Homo sapiens: one gene and its partner. The protein of the gene in region 1 interacts with the protein of each later gene in a biochemical or structural test. Each region holds a gene or a part of one and is shown on either strand. Other genes may lie near its edges.

Region 1 (7,629 bases):
AAAAGTACGCTATCAGAGCATTGTGGTGTCAAGGAGCAAAATTTCAAGAAGATGGACAATATGGAAAATAGAAGGTCAGAAGAGAACAATCGATAATACATCAATAAAAAGAAAACAAACATTGGAATTGAGGAGGAGCTTACTGGTGAGTTAGAATAAGTTGTGGGATATGATAGAGACCATGGCCAATTTACATGTAGAAATAGATGGAAATTGGAGAATTTGTTGATTTTTTTTGAAATAAGGCAATTACAGGACATATTTTGTATACAGAAATATAAATTGTCTATTTCAGCTCTTCCTAGTTGGTCTCAAGGGACACAAGATACAAGAGAATACATAGAACCAGTACATAGTCATAATCCCTACTGTAGAACCGAGTCATTCTATGAAAAGATATAGAAACACCTTATGTCATCCATTACTCCTCATGGAGAGGATCATAAAGCCAGAGGAAGTTTCCTCCCAAGGCATAGCCTTCTACCAAAAAAATATCCCCAAATCATTGCTGCACCCATCCAGCTTCTTAGGATGATGCTTCCTGAACAAGAATCTTTAAGGCTACTTATTATAGGACTGTGTTCAATGTGGTGGGGTATACAAAAAGATTATAAGTGTAGTCTTTTTCTGCAAAGTACTTCCTAATTAGAAAACAAATCAGACATACAAATGAGGATTAAGCAACAAAATAAGACTAAGTATGATTAAGTTCCCAAGTGAAAATAGTCTACTAGAGATTCTGAAGAGGAGTGATCGTTTTGTTAGAACCATGAATTTTAAAATGCATTTAGTTGATACATACCTATGTATTGTTATTATTACCAGTAGCCCTGTTTATTAATGACCCACTATGCGCCCATCCCCATGATAGAAACATGCATGCTTTTTATGGCCCTCATAGCAACCTGAAATTTCAATGCTATAAAATTCCTTTTGAAGACAAGAAAACAGATTCTCAGAGTTTAATTATCTTGCTCCAAATCAGATCATCAGGAAGTTGCAGAGCAAAATTAAAAGCCAGCTCGCACTGCCTATGATGGTAACTTGGTAGATTAAATAATTTATCTTCAAAATGACTTGGCAAGTTAGAATTTTGTTCTTAAAACACAGAATTAAATTTTGTAGGGATACATGTCAGACTAGAACCGAATAAACTTGGTTTATATTGTTCCTGGTATCAACATTAACCACATTTTGTTGCCAGGACCAAAAATCCTGGGAAGCTAAAAAGTATTCTATTTGAGGGGAAACTGCTATGCAGTATAATTACACGGCAGGTTGTTGGAATATTAAAGTTTTCAGAAGACTTTCAACCAATCACTTGTGTCTTCTGAATCTTAGTTTCTTCATCTGTGAAAATGGAAAGGTTGTCATCAGGAATAAGTAATTTCAGGGAATGGCAAAGATAAATGCACATACATCAATCTATAAAAGAAAGTTCACATAGTACAAATAGATGTGATATGAAAAAGCAGTACAAATTTAAATATCAGGTCCACATGTAAAATCTGTACAAAGAAATACCTCACATCTACCCCCGCAAGGGTTCTAGCAGTTCCTTAGTCCTGGAAAGTGGGTGGATCCATTCCCAGATCCCCAAATGCTGTTAGCCATAAGTTACCACTGAAATAAATTTACTACCAAATAACCAAACCATTATGCCGAGTCTAATAAAATATCCCAGATACGGCATGTATTAATTTGATTTGCGTTACACTTCGGGCTGGTAAGGTTCATATGTACACTTAGAAACCGAAAAATGCGGCGAAATGGATGAAGATTATATTGGCACTCTAAGAATGTTTGCAAAATACTGAAATATTGAAAACATGAAATATGACATATTGAAAACATGAAATATGAAATATTGATCTTTACGTGAGTTACAAAAACATTATTTCACGCAGGGTTTCAGCAGTCTGAATGCTTCTTCTCCGGCTTTTCCCCCAATGGAGAATTGGATTCCCTTTTGCCCCGCCCACTCAGTGCTTCCAGATTGCTTGAGAAGGCCAAGGCAGCCGGCTCAGCAGCAGGGAAGCCGGGCTGGGTATGCAGGAGCTATATATAGCTCCACCTTGGAGATGTGCACACACAAGCACACGTACGAATACCCATGCCCGGTTTGGCATGAAAATAAATAAATAAATAAGGAAAGGTCGCAGCTATCCGCTTTCCCTCTTTCCCATCATCCCAATTTTTCAGGAATTTTCAAAGCAGGGTGTCATCAGTCCCAGAGGGTGATGCAGCGTCGGATCTCTCTGCAATTCTTCTGCCTACTGCTCCCAGCAATCTGACTCCTGCAGGAACCGGCACTGGGCCAACACCTACTACCCAGATGCGGTCACCTAGGGAGGCAGCCTCGCAGCCGCTCGGAGCCCATCCGGGCACAATCACTTGACTCCCTGGAAATCCCTGAAGCCAAATCCACCTTTCAGAAACTAGGTGTGAAGGTGGTTCCCGTAGACAGCGCCAGGCTAGGAGGGAAGGGGCCGTGGCTCCGCGGTCTCTCCCTCCCACCTGCCGCAGATCGTGGAGAAGGGCCGGTGCCTTCTCAACGGAGACGTAATTAATCGGAACGTGCCCTTCGAGTTGCAGGGATTCTTCCCCACCCCCATCTCCTGAAGGGAGCTAGATCTTAACAGAGGGGTCAGGGGACAAACAAGTCGCTTCCTCCCCTCTCCGCAACCGCTCCCAGGTTTTCCGGGATGCGCTAGCCAGGCGCCCAGGTGGGATGGGAAAGATGAGCAGGTGCGGGCCGGCGTCGGGAGAAAAAGACCTGCAGGCCCCGGGCTGCCGACCTCTCTGCTTCCCCACCCCTCCCCTGCCGAGGCGATATGGCATCCCTGGGGCGAGTTCCCGGCGCTGGCGGCGGCAGCCTCCGAAAGGAAAGTTGACGAGACACAGACCCCGAGCTCGGAGCCCTCTTCTAGGGCACTGCCGTCCTGCCTTGCCCGGCACCCCAGGGCTCCGGCATCCCGCACCCCTGCTTCCCCGCACCCCAGCCACCTCCGCCCCAGTCCTTCCCGCGCCGCACGGCGAGAGCTGCAGGGACCACAGGAGATTTGGGGGTGACGAGGGCTGGGCGGGGCTGGGGGAAGGGAAGCAACAGCATGGAAATGCGCATTCTTTATTTTATCTGCAAAGAAGGAAAAGTCCAGCTTCCTACCTGTTCCCTGCTCCTGCTCGCCTCGGTGCGGCACAGCTGGACCATACCCTACAGGTTTCCCACTTCCGCTGCAAACACCTGGGAGCGCATCTCCCCACCGGCGCCCCTCCTCGCCTCGGCGGAGCCCACCCTGGCTACTTGACAGCAGAAGCCCGGCCTTTTAGGGCGGTTATTGGGGCAGCAGGGAAAGTGGGGCGGGGACCACAGGGAAACCCGCTTCTCTGATTGGACAACAGGGATATCACTCTCACCCCCAGGACCAGCGCAGGCTGCAGACTTGGGTAGCTGCTAAACCCAACTGCAAAGGGTCTCTGCAGTGCCTGAAACCCAAACCTGCTGCTACCGGATCAAGGACCCTTGCTGGAGAGAAACTGGTTTGATGACTTGTCATTTGGGGCCCCAAGAGGGAGGGAGGGTCCAGGCATAACTAGACACCCAGCACTTTCCTGAAGCTTCCCTGAAGGGACCATCTGCTCCGGGAGATTTGTCAGGCGAAAATACCAAGCCAGCGCCTCATAGAGAAGAATGAGCTTCGATTAGGAAATAATAAGATACTTATGTGGGAAAAAATACACACACAGAAAGGAAAATAAAACGATGTGAGGTTTTTTTTTAAAGTTTCCATTTTTGTCCAGATGTAACATGGCAGTTTTTCTTGAGAAAAGACGGAATTGCTTAGTCTGTAATGCAGAAGACCCCCTAATATTCCCTGGTAGAAACAGTGTTTTAAACGGGAAAGCACTGCATAATAACCTCTCAAAAAAAAAAAAAGGGTAAAAGAAATTAAGGCCAAACTGCATGAGAGATTTGCTTTGGGGCAGTTCAGTTTGTGGCAAAAGTCTTAAAATAATCACCATTAGACTGATTGATAATTAAGTGATCTGTTACTTTTCTATTGATAGTAGTTTATCATTTCTTTAGTACTCAGACACTGAGAGGATGTTTATGCCCCCAAACCTAAGTGATCCCAAGCCTGCCTTTTATGTGAAGGGAACAGGGTAAAATAACTTTGTGTCCAGTTGCCATCTCTGCCATTTATTCAGGTGGAATCTGGAAATTTTGGAATTCAAGAGACTCCTTAAATGAAGGAACGTGCTAGAACTACCACGTGTAAAACTGGGAGTGTAGGGTGTCTTAGTATATAGTACCATGTGAGGAATCAAGTTGCCTTCTGCCTGCAAATAGCCACATTCTTCTTCTATCTGAATTAAGTAGCCATCTTAAGTGCTGAGCATAAGACACAACTCTCATTCTCACAGAGCTTCAAAGAGCTTATGACAGGCTTGGGACACTGGACAACTGTTAGAGAAGATGACATTGCTATTAATAAATATAGACTCTACTTAGTGGTTACGGTTGTTATTACTATCATCAGGTAAGGCTCTTCATAATGTTTTCTTCATAATACTGAAGGAATCCGATTAATGCATTTGAAGGTGGGGGCCGGGCGAGGTGGCTCATGCCTGTAATCCCAGCACTTTGGCAGGCGAGGCAGGCGGATCACAAGGTCAGGAGATCGAGACCATCCTGGCTAACACGGTGAAACCTCGTCTCTACTCAAAAAAAAAAAAAAAAAAAAAAATACAAAAAATACAAAAAATTAGCCGGGCATGGTGTTGGGCGCCTGCAGTCCCAGCTACTCAGAAAGCTGAGGCAGGAGAATGGCGTGAACCCAGGAGGCGGAGTTTGCAGTGAGCGGAGATTGCGCCACCGCACTCCAGCCTGGGCGACAGAGCGAGACTCCGCCTCAAAAAATAAAATAAAATAAAATAAAATAAAATAAAATAAAATAAAATAAAATAAAATAAAATAAAATAAAATAATAAAATAAAATAAAATAATGCATTTGAAGGTGGGAAGGGACCCTGGAGAAAATTTACAGTGAACAAATAGATATTATTTGTGTGGTGACAACCATCTTAACACTGAATGGAAATGACTAAATATGCCGTGGCAAAATTTCAGAACCCCTGTGTCATTTCTTACACAATACTCCTATTAGTCATGCACCTCTGTCCCAGGTACTCACACCAGTTATTCCATTGGATTGGCCAAATCATTCATGAATTACTGAGTACTTTTTCAATGCCATACCCTGTGTTAGGTGCTACAGAACTAAAGCAGAATAATGTATTGGACACATTAAAGATGATCTCAGGAAGCAATTACAATAGTAATATTTCTAAGGAATGTGTGTTTGCAACACGAACATCTTTTGATTCCTAAGCATAAATTATTTTGAGTCAAAATGAGCTTCAACATACTCTCCTCTAGAGGTAATCAGAGGAGAAGAAAAAGTATCAAAGAAAATACCTAAATATTGAAGACAACACAAGAATTGAAATTGGTAATGAAAAGAAAACTAAAGACATCTCTGCTATCTGCGTTCTTTCATTGCTTCACTCATTCATTCCTTCAACAAATATTACTATTATAAATGTGATGGTGAATAAAATAGGCAAGCTCTCATGGAACACATTCTTTATTCTTCAAGCAGACAATGTTACTTTGTGCATTTACTGTGATCTAATTAGCAGCTTTGTGTGTACATGCAAACACAACTCTGGAACAGTATTAAGATAATTTCTCTCTGGATCAGGCATCTCACACATTTTCAAGTAAAACAGAGCATTTTCAGGTTATTGCTTATTATCTCAAAGAGAAAAACCTGTACATATGTTCCCACAATACAAATGAATATGTCAAAGGTATCTGCTGCTGCAGAACATTTTAGATTTTCCAAATCACTTTCAGATACAATTTCCCTCTGTGTTCTAAAATAAGCAGGAGAGTCATCATTAGTCGCATTTCACCATGAGGAAATTGAGTAACCAAAGAGAAATGTGGTCCTTCAAAAACAAAGGCAGTAAACTATTATAGGTGGGTATATAATGCTTGGCATATTGCAGACATCTAATATGTATTTGCTGACAAATATATGGTTTTGAAAATATGAAAGTTTGAAGGATCTTAGAAAGTATTGAACTCCTTGTAATGCCAGCACTTTGGGAGGCCGAGGCAGGCAGATCATCGGAGGTTGGGAGTTCGAGACCAGCCTGACCAACATGAAGAAACCCAGTGTCTACTAAAAATACAAAATTAGCTGGGCATGCTGGCCCATGCCTGTAATCCTAGCTACTCAGGAGGCTGAGGCAGGAGAATCTCTTGAACCTGGGAGACGGAGGTGGTTGCGGTAAGCCGAGATGGCACCATTGCACTCCAGCCTGGGCAGCAATGGGAGCAAAACTCTGTCTCAAAAAAAAAAAAAAAAAGAAAAGAAAAAGAAAGAATTGTTGAATTCCACTCATTATTCTGTGAGGGAGGGACAGAATTTGCTTAAGGTCATGTGACTAGTTAGGGGAAAGCTGCAGCTAGACCCCAGGTCTTAAGACTTCATTCATTACTTTTTCTACCACATGAACAATAAGAGTTTTGGTATTTCTTTCAGCAGAGTTCCTTCTCTTTTTCCTCCCTGTATCATCCAGCCTTTTGATGTTTTCAGGACTGATCCAGCTGGTGTACTCATCTTCCAGCGTCTATAAAAATATGTGAAAGCATGCCACTTTAACTATAAATTCAGCTCAGATTCAACGTGCTTGTAAGTTTGAGGTCGGCTTCATGAGTATGGGATCAGAGTCATCAGGACTGGTGTCGAGGTATGAAGAAAGCTGTTGGAAAATGAATGGCCAGCTGGCACTTCTGTCCCTAAAATTAGGAAGAAGGGAATTATAGAAACAATAGTCTGAAGGCTTCCAATCTGGCAGTCTGGTATAGAACCTGTCTGCAGATCTTCAAAAGAAACAGTAGGACAATTTTGTCATGTGCCCTGGATGGCTCTGACTCCCTAGTCACTTACAGAGTTCCATAGTACAATTTACTGGGCATTGCTTTGCTAAACTGCCCTTGGCCTTATTGAATTCTCCTGTCTTCCCCTCCTTTTTCCACCCTGCACTGGCCCTCCTTCTTCAAACATTCCAATTTCCTCCAACTAGTGATTAAACCTCAGTGAAGGGAAAGGAAACTACAGCAACAGTGCAGCTTTCCACAGCATGTACTCCCTTTCTTTCTCCTCTGCTCCGCCCACCGTTTCCTCACTTCTCCAGGCTTCCCAGAACAATTTCTAACATACTCGATATGGCAAAAAAGCAGGAGAGTAAGGAAAACGGGCCTTTTCCAATTAATATTTTAAGCTGCAATTACCACAGCAGAAAGGTAACCAAGGTTCTGCCTGCTGGTTTAAAGAGAGTCATGCTAAACCCAGTCTGCAGCATCTCAGAGATCACGTCAGCTCACTGACCTAGCTTTTACATAGCCAACTGGGAATCCAGGCAATGGGATGGATGCACAGTGCACCAAGCTTGCATGCACACACACACACACACACACTATCAGTGCCACGTGGTGGGGAGACCAGGACGGGAAAGTTTTTGAATACTAAATACTGCATATATATTAAACGGCAG
Region 2 (7,142 bases), about 30 Mb from region 1:
CTTATTGTAGAAAAGCATAACACATTCAAATGGCATCTAGTTAAATGCTTGTTTTAACTTACAGAATGAATGAGTGAGAAAAAATTGTCCAAAGATTACCATGGTGGAAAGACTAATATAAGCCTCACAAATCAACACCTAAGGAAAAGACTTAACAATACAGTGGATGCTGATCTCCATATTGGATTATGGATCAAAATTTTCTGGTGATTAATAAATATCAAGTATTATGCACAAATCCAGATTTCCTGAAACAGAATCTTGGAGGTGGTTGTAGAGGAAAAAATGGTGGGAAAGAATCCTGGGAATGTGTATTTTTTTTTAAATTTTTATTTTTAGTTTTGGGGTACATGTGCAGGGTGTGCAGATTTGTTACATAGGTAAACGTGTGCCGTGGTGCTTTGTTGCACCTATCAACCCATCACCTAGGAATTAAGCCCAGGATGCATTAGCTACGGGAATGTGTATTTTTAGTAAGCCCTCCCTTTTCTACCCCAGGTGATTCTTAGGCAAGCCATGGGGCAAGTCTGTGGTCAAGCATTTGGGAACCTCTGGTATAGTAAAATGTACACTGAACAAAGAGTCAAAAAACTTAGGCTCTAATCATAGATCTGCTGCTAATTTATCTGGGACAATTTACTTAACCCTGAAAAATTTGTCTTCTTAGTGAGGCGCTTCGTTTCTTGATAACTTTTCCCATGCTTTGTAAGGTTCATTGGTGCCTAATATATTGTGATTCATCAGTTTTATCTTTCATGACTTTCTAAAGCAAACCTCTAATAGAAGAGTAAATACACAATTGCATGATTAACTTCAAGAGAAGATTAAACTGCCTATATATTCCACAAGCAAAAATTCCTAGCTCAGGACTGAACTGTGTCCTGCACCAGGAGCTTGCACATGTGTATAACATATTTTCTACATGTGTCCATTATCTGGGTTATATCCATTAATGGTCAATAAATTAGAAAAATCTGTGGCTGCCCATTGATTCTTAACATTTCAAAAGTGTGTTACCTCCAAAAGATATCTACCCCTAAACAGCAATACAAGAGATTTGCAAAAACACAACTATCTTCCAGTCTTATCAAGCACCATTCTGATGTTCTAATAATTTATTATAATTAGCAAATAGAAGTGTCTGTCAATAAAATCTAATAATTTTCCGATTACTGACTTTAGTCATTACATATATAGGCTGTGTATATGCCTACATCCATATTCCTACATCTAACAGTGCTTAACTGGCAGAGAAGAGAGGCTCATGAAATAGTTGTTGAATTAATAAAAGAAGCAAGACAAGAAGGGAAGGAAGAAAAAGCAATAGAAAAAGTTGGGCTTATTTTAATGAGGGTCATGAAGTTTTCCATCATTGGGCACGTCACCATCCACCTCCATTAGCTTATGAATCTTCCATAGGAAATATGTTGGGGCATGTGGACTTCCCTTAAATGTAAAACAAACAAACAAACAAACAAACAAAACCCCCAAGATATTTAGTAGAAAGACTTTCAGGATTTGCTCTGAAAGGAATAGCTCACCTTTTTGTAAACAGAGGCTTTCATTGACCAGTTTTCCCTCCTTGTTGACATCTATTTTCATCCAGCTATGGAGGTATTTCCTGGCCTTCTTGACCACTACTCTGGAGCCTTGTTTCTGGAGAAAGAGAGAGGCATTTTCCACCTCAAGGAAGCCTTCCTGATCATAGCAGGTCCATCGGGGTGCCTGGGAACAGCGGTCCAAGATGGCTGAGCGGGAGGGGCCGCGGGAAGAGTTGGAGATGGCCAAGCACAGTGCAGATTTAACATGAAGGAGCTTTTCATCCTCAGTCCACATCCACTGCTGGTTCTGGATGGTCCTGTTGCATGAGCCCACGACCACTTTCTCATTTTTGAAAAGACACTGTTGTTTCTGGACATGGACAATCTGAAACCCTTCTGGAAGATGAAAAGCTCATAAAGCACTATGTAGCAAATTATGAGGCCCATTAGAAAACGGAAGAACCCACCCACAAATGAGCTAAATAAAATCACTAGTTTTACTTATATTTTGTTATTTCTATCATTTCAAGTGAACATTCTCATATTTAACACATGTGATTTAAAATTCCAAAGCTGACGATATAAAATGTCAATATGTTACACTTAACTCCCCATCTTTTTTTTTTTTTTAATTTTCACATGCTTTAGGGGAAAAAAGCACACCTCTTATTGGAAAATGAAAGGAAGCTTGGAAAGAAACAAAACCATCCAAAGTATATAGTATATTTTAGCCCAATTAGTTAGATATGCTGAAGTTATGAAATGCTCAGCTCCCTTTTTAACCATTTGACATATTCGATATAAGCTTCCTCCCTTACCTTAAAAAAGCACCCCCTTTTCCAGTCTTTAAATTCACATTGCAGTATTTATATACAAATTTCATAGTTTGAATAACAATTTTTTAAAATTGCATACATTTATCAAAAAATAAAACAAATTTTCCCACTTCTCCAAGCACAACCTCCTAGCTAATTGCAGCCAATGAAAGTATTGATTATCACAAACTAAATTTCCTTTAGTCGTGGAGAGGAGCATTTCTCTATTTTATGACAATATCTACAGTTTTCTCTCAAATACGAATAGATTTTCTAAAAATCATCATGTGCCAGTGTAAGAAAATTAAACATCAAATTGCTAAACATCAGTATTAAAGAGCAAGATACTCTGGCTCAGAAACCATTTTCAATGAGGTTTTACTTAAATTGCCCAGCTCGCTCATGAAAATGTTCAGCCCTCCCAAATGACAACTTCCAAATAAAACACACTACATTTCCTCACCCCCTTTAATCATATTCCTTCAATTTTCTTTCTTCAACACAAAAGAAAATAAAACTATAACCGGGTCGGAAAAAGGCTTGGGGAAAGCCACAGACTGTTATATAATAATACAAACTTTTCCTCGGGGTTCTTTACGCTCTGCTCTAAATGTATCATTTCAGGGGCTGCCTGAAGCATTTGGAGGATGAGAGGAGAGCATTTATTTTCTTTTGGAGAGAAATCTCAACAGTATGGGCATAGCTGGCTCCTTTTATTCCTGCTTTTCATCGTCTTTGGCTAAACTGCCATGGAGACCTGGCCCCTTCTACCTTATTTCAGACACTTCAAAGACCAGGGACTCCTTGGCTAGATCTTGAAGAAATGCCTCAGGACACTGAGGCAGACCCACTCACCTGAGTTCCTGAAGATCAAGCAGGTAAGAATCACCATGTAAAATTCAGCCTCCATTTTCCACTTAGCAACTGTTCATGCTTCGCTTGGGGAAAAAAAAAATTCTCCCAGATAAGAGAAGCAAAGACTAGGAAGGAAATGTGCCTTCATGGTGGGGGGAAAAGTCAGTGACGAGCACTTCCTCCTATTGAATTGTTTGGGGAAGTTTTACACCAGTGTCCTTTTGTCTGTTTCCTTAGAAAGAAGGGATTATGATTACCTCTTTTTTTTAATGTAGAAAATATTCCAGCCTTCAAGAGCAGAGTAAATCTCGTTAAGACCTCACCTACCTTTCCTTTGGCATGTGACTGCTTCTTAACCTCAAGAAGAAAGAAAGGAATTGAAATCTCAGATAATTGAATGTTCCTGAAACATTACATCTCTTCAGGTGATGTGATTCTGCTGAATAAACATAAGCCATGTAATTGATGAGGGTCTATGACAAGTGATATAAAGACATAAACATGTACTGTTTGTATAATGATATGCTGCGAGTCTATTGAGGAAAACCACATAATGATGGCACTTCTAGATCATTATCTCCCAAGTGATGACAATATTACATTTTGAGATCGTCATCTTCACTGGGGAGATGCAGACACTAAAATTAAACCCATCACATTATCTACTTTGGTCTTCCCCAAACAGAGGATGGCGTCTTTCCAAATAGAAAAAAAAAAAAGAATATGCTTTACTCAGTATTTAGTATTAAGAGTTTATTGGCAGTATGAAACAAAGTCAACATTGCTGCATTAAAAATTCATATATGAGCAGAACAGCTAGTGTTTGCTGAGGGTAGTTATTTTAATTTTTTTTGTCTCTTGAAGATTGAAAGCTTTCAGAAATGTAAGGACATACATGGAAATGTCCTTATAAGGAGCCTCGAAAATGGGACAGATTATATCATTCCTGAAGGCATATACCTTTTGTTGAGAGAGAGATTCCAGGTAGATAGCATATTCAAAAATCCCTTCTTAGCAAAAGAGAGACAAGTAGTTAAAACTCTTGATACTTCAGAGTTGCTACAAATTTGTTTTTCCCTTTTAAAGTAAAATGACTCACGATGTGGAAATACAGTGGATAGAGTTCTGGAGCAGAAGCCACCTTTATGCCCAATAATAGAGAGTAAATACATATATACCCAATGACAATCATTGTGCTCTGTAATTGTTTGATAGGAGGGACTATAAATACACATTTAATAGGTAATATTATCAAGACACATTTCCATATAAAATAGTTACTGTTTTTGATTTTTGTTTTTCAAAAACAAAGACTTCTCTGTTAAAAATCCATTATCAATCACTTGCAACTTTAGCAGCAAGATTCTGGTAACTGAGAAAGGTAATAGCACTTCAAAACAGGAACAGTTTAACAGCTGACAGTCCATTCACAAGACAGATTTTGCAAACATTAAAGCATCTAACACATAATACGAATGTCTTCAGCAGCTCATCCAGTCATCACCTGATGACATTTATTACTGAATATTACATACATACATTCTGTGTGGCAGATAGAGTCAGTACAGACAAAACAAAATCTGCCTTAGGCTGTGTGATAAACCTATCATACCTCCATCATCAAAAAACCTTCAGAATAATTTGGGGGATGCTTACAAATGCATTCATATACACAAGGAGCTGGAAATCTTAAATATGTTGCCCAGTCTTCCACAATCCATGCCATACATGGGCTTCAGAGCTTCTCCTTCCTTCCATTGCAGGAAGCTCCTTCTAGAAGCCTTGGGTGGGTAATTTGATTAATCACCCCAAGAGATTGATGGTCTGACAAGTCTTCAATGACTCACTGGACAGTCTCTGCTGAAAGTCTGCTCTCATACAGGCACAGAGCATGGTGCACAAATTCATACTGCTCACTGGTTTGCACCATTCCACCTCTGCAAGGAAGAAATCATAAAATAACTGATTTTGCTAAAATCTTGCAATTTCAAGTAACACAGAGATTTCATCCAAGCTAGGGTATTATGCCAAAGACACATAGAACAGTCGACCTAGTGGTTCTTTTGTTATCCCTCTTACCTGTGTCCAAATGTCTCAACTATCAAAGTTAACATGGTAATGTATATAAAGGGCTTAACACAGTTCCCAGCACACACTAGGCACGTGATTAATTTTTACCTGTGTAACATTACTGGGGAGGTGGTACAGCCTAATGATCAAGTACTTGGATTTGGCATCAGCCAAGGTGAGTTCAAATCCCTCCTCTGCCAATTCTTAGCTGTATGCATCTTGGACAAATTCCTCGAAACCCCTTGCACTTTAGTTTCTTCCTCTGTTAAAGCAGGATAGTAACAGTAACTACTGCTGTGAAGGTTAAATAAATTCATTGTAGCTGGTATATTTGTATTACTTCTCAGGTGCCTCATGATTCATCTCTTGTTAAAATGGTTTATACATTTGGCTTAAAATTGATTGACGGAGACAAACCAAACAAAACTCATCTGCAAAATGTTGCTTTCTACAAGTAAAATGAAGTCTACCTTGGAATGGTTTATTTGAATATGTTGTACAGAAGCAACCTTAGCCTTTTGGTGTACGGGGTGTCTAAACACAATAGTGGGTGGGTCCTTAAATGAGTTGGAAAAAGGGAATTGGCTCTGCTGTGACATTTTCCTCTTGGTTATCACCATTATCATCACTAGCTGCCCAGCACCCTCCTTGTCAATGGATTCATAGAAAGCACTTGCCTTCATGAGAAATAACGGTGCTTCTCATTATGTTTTTATATACATAATACCTATATCACATTTTCCCCCTTCATAATTATGATCCTTTTTTAATTTTAGTTTTTGAGAAAACGTCTCCTTAATTGCTTAGGCTGTTGTGCAGTGGCATGATCACAGCTCAGTGCAGCCTCAACTTCCTGGGATCAAGCAATTCTCCCACCTCAGCCTCTGGTGTAGCTGGGACCACAGGCACCACCACACCTGGACAATTTTTAAATTTTTTTTTTCTTGTAGAGACAAGGCCTCACTATGTTGCCCAGGCTGGTCTCCTGGACTCAAGTGATCCTCTTGTCTTGGGCTCCCAAAGTGATGGAATCACAGGCTTGAACGACGGTGTCCAGTCCTATAATTATGATTTTTTAGCTTGACAAAGTTACCAGACATTAATATGTTACTATTCCTGCTCACTGTATAAAAGCATCACTATCGGTAACTATTTAAAGTCTTGTAAATTCTCTGTAACTCTGCAATCATGCAACTGATCTTATCTTTTAGTTTAACTCTATGTTTTAACCAGATTTTTCCAAGTGGTTGTTAGTATCATTCAAAATAACTTTCAGATTATTTAGGCACTTCAACTTAAAAACAAGATATCTTGTCTCACTGTAACAAGACTTCTAGTTAATGGTAATAATAAAAACTGGGCTTCTATGTTTATTTGTCAATCTATGTCAATATTAGAGCAGTAAAACTTCCTTGTTTTAAACTAAACAGTGATTCCCCAGGAAAATTAACATGATGTCAAAATGATGTAATTGGCAAAAAATAAAGAGGTAAATTCACAGTTTTTGGTGACAGCAACTTATTGACAGAAGTATTTAATTGGTCTTCCTCCCCTAGAGCTGTACATTTTGTTGCATTGAAGGCAACCTTCTGGGCTAAGTATTCCTTGGTCAGAAGTGAACAACAGAAATGGCCAGCTGAGAATGTGGTAATGGTTTATCTTCTTAGCTGTGTGATGACATCTGGGCTCATCTAAAATCATAGCAGGTGTTCCGAAGATGCTGGCTTGAACTGTGAAGCTTGGGAGACACCACCACAGTAAATATTAGGGTAGCTCCAGGGAGCTGAGAGGTGCCTCCCTTCCTCTGGCATTTGCACAGCTCAGGGCACCATTACTCCCTCTTGAGCTGCAGACAGTATGT

Evidence for each region. Proteins that work in one complex are often made in the same cells at the same time.
Region 2: the proteins of CNTN1 (region 1) and PTPRB form a complex in vitro, tested with the Homo sapiens proteins (2 studies listed by BioGRID).

Annotation. Positions count from the first base shown.
Region 1 is NC_000012.12:40,688,130-40,695,758, reverse strand, and holds the start of CNTN1 (contactin-1 isoform 1 precursor), read right to left. Parts: upstream 3,321-7,629; 5' UTR 3,167-3,320; intron 1-3,166. UniProt on the Homo sapiens protein: Contactins mediate cell surface interactions during nervous system development.
Region 2 is NC_000012.12:70,634,130-70,641,271, forward strand, and holds the start of PTPRB (receptor-type tyrosine-protein phosphatase beta), read right to left. Parts: upstream 3,301-7,142; 5' UTR 3,267-3,300; coding exon 3,212-3,266; intron 1,938-3,211; coding exon 1,542-1,937; intron 1-1,541. Other genes in the region: PTPRR (receptor-type tyrosine-protein phosphatase R isoform 1 precursor), read right to left, coding at 5,055-5,148. UniProt on the Homo sapiens protein: Plays an important role in blood vessel remodeling and angiogenesis. Not necessary for the initial formation of blood vessels, but is essential for their maintenance and remodeling. Can induce dephosphorylation of TEK/TIE2, CDH5/VE-cadherin and KDR/VEGFR-2.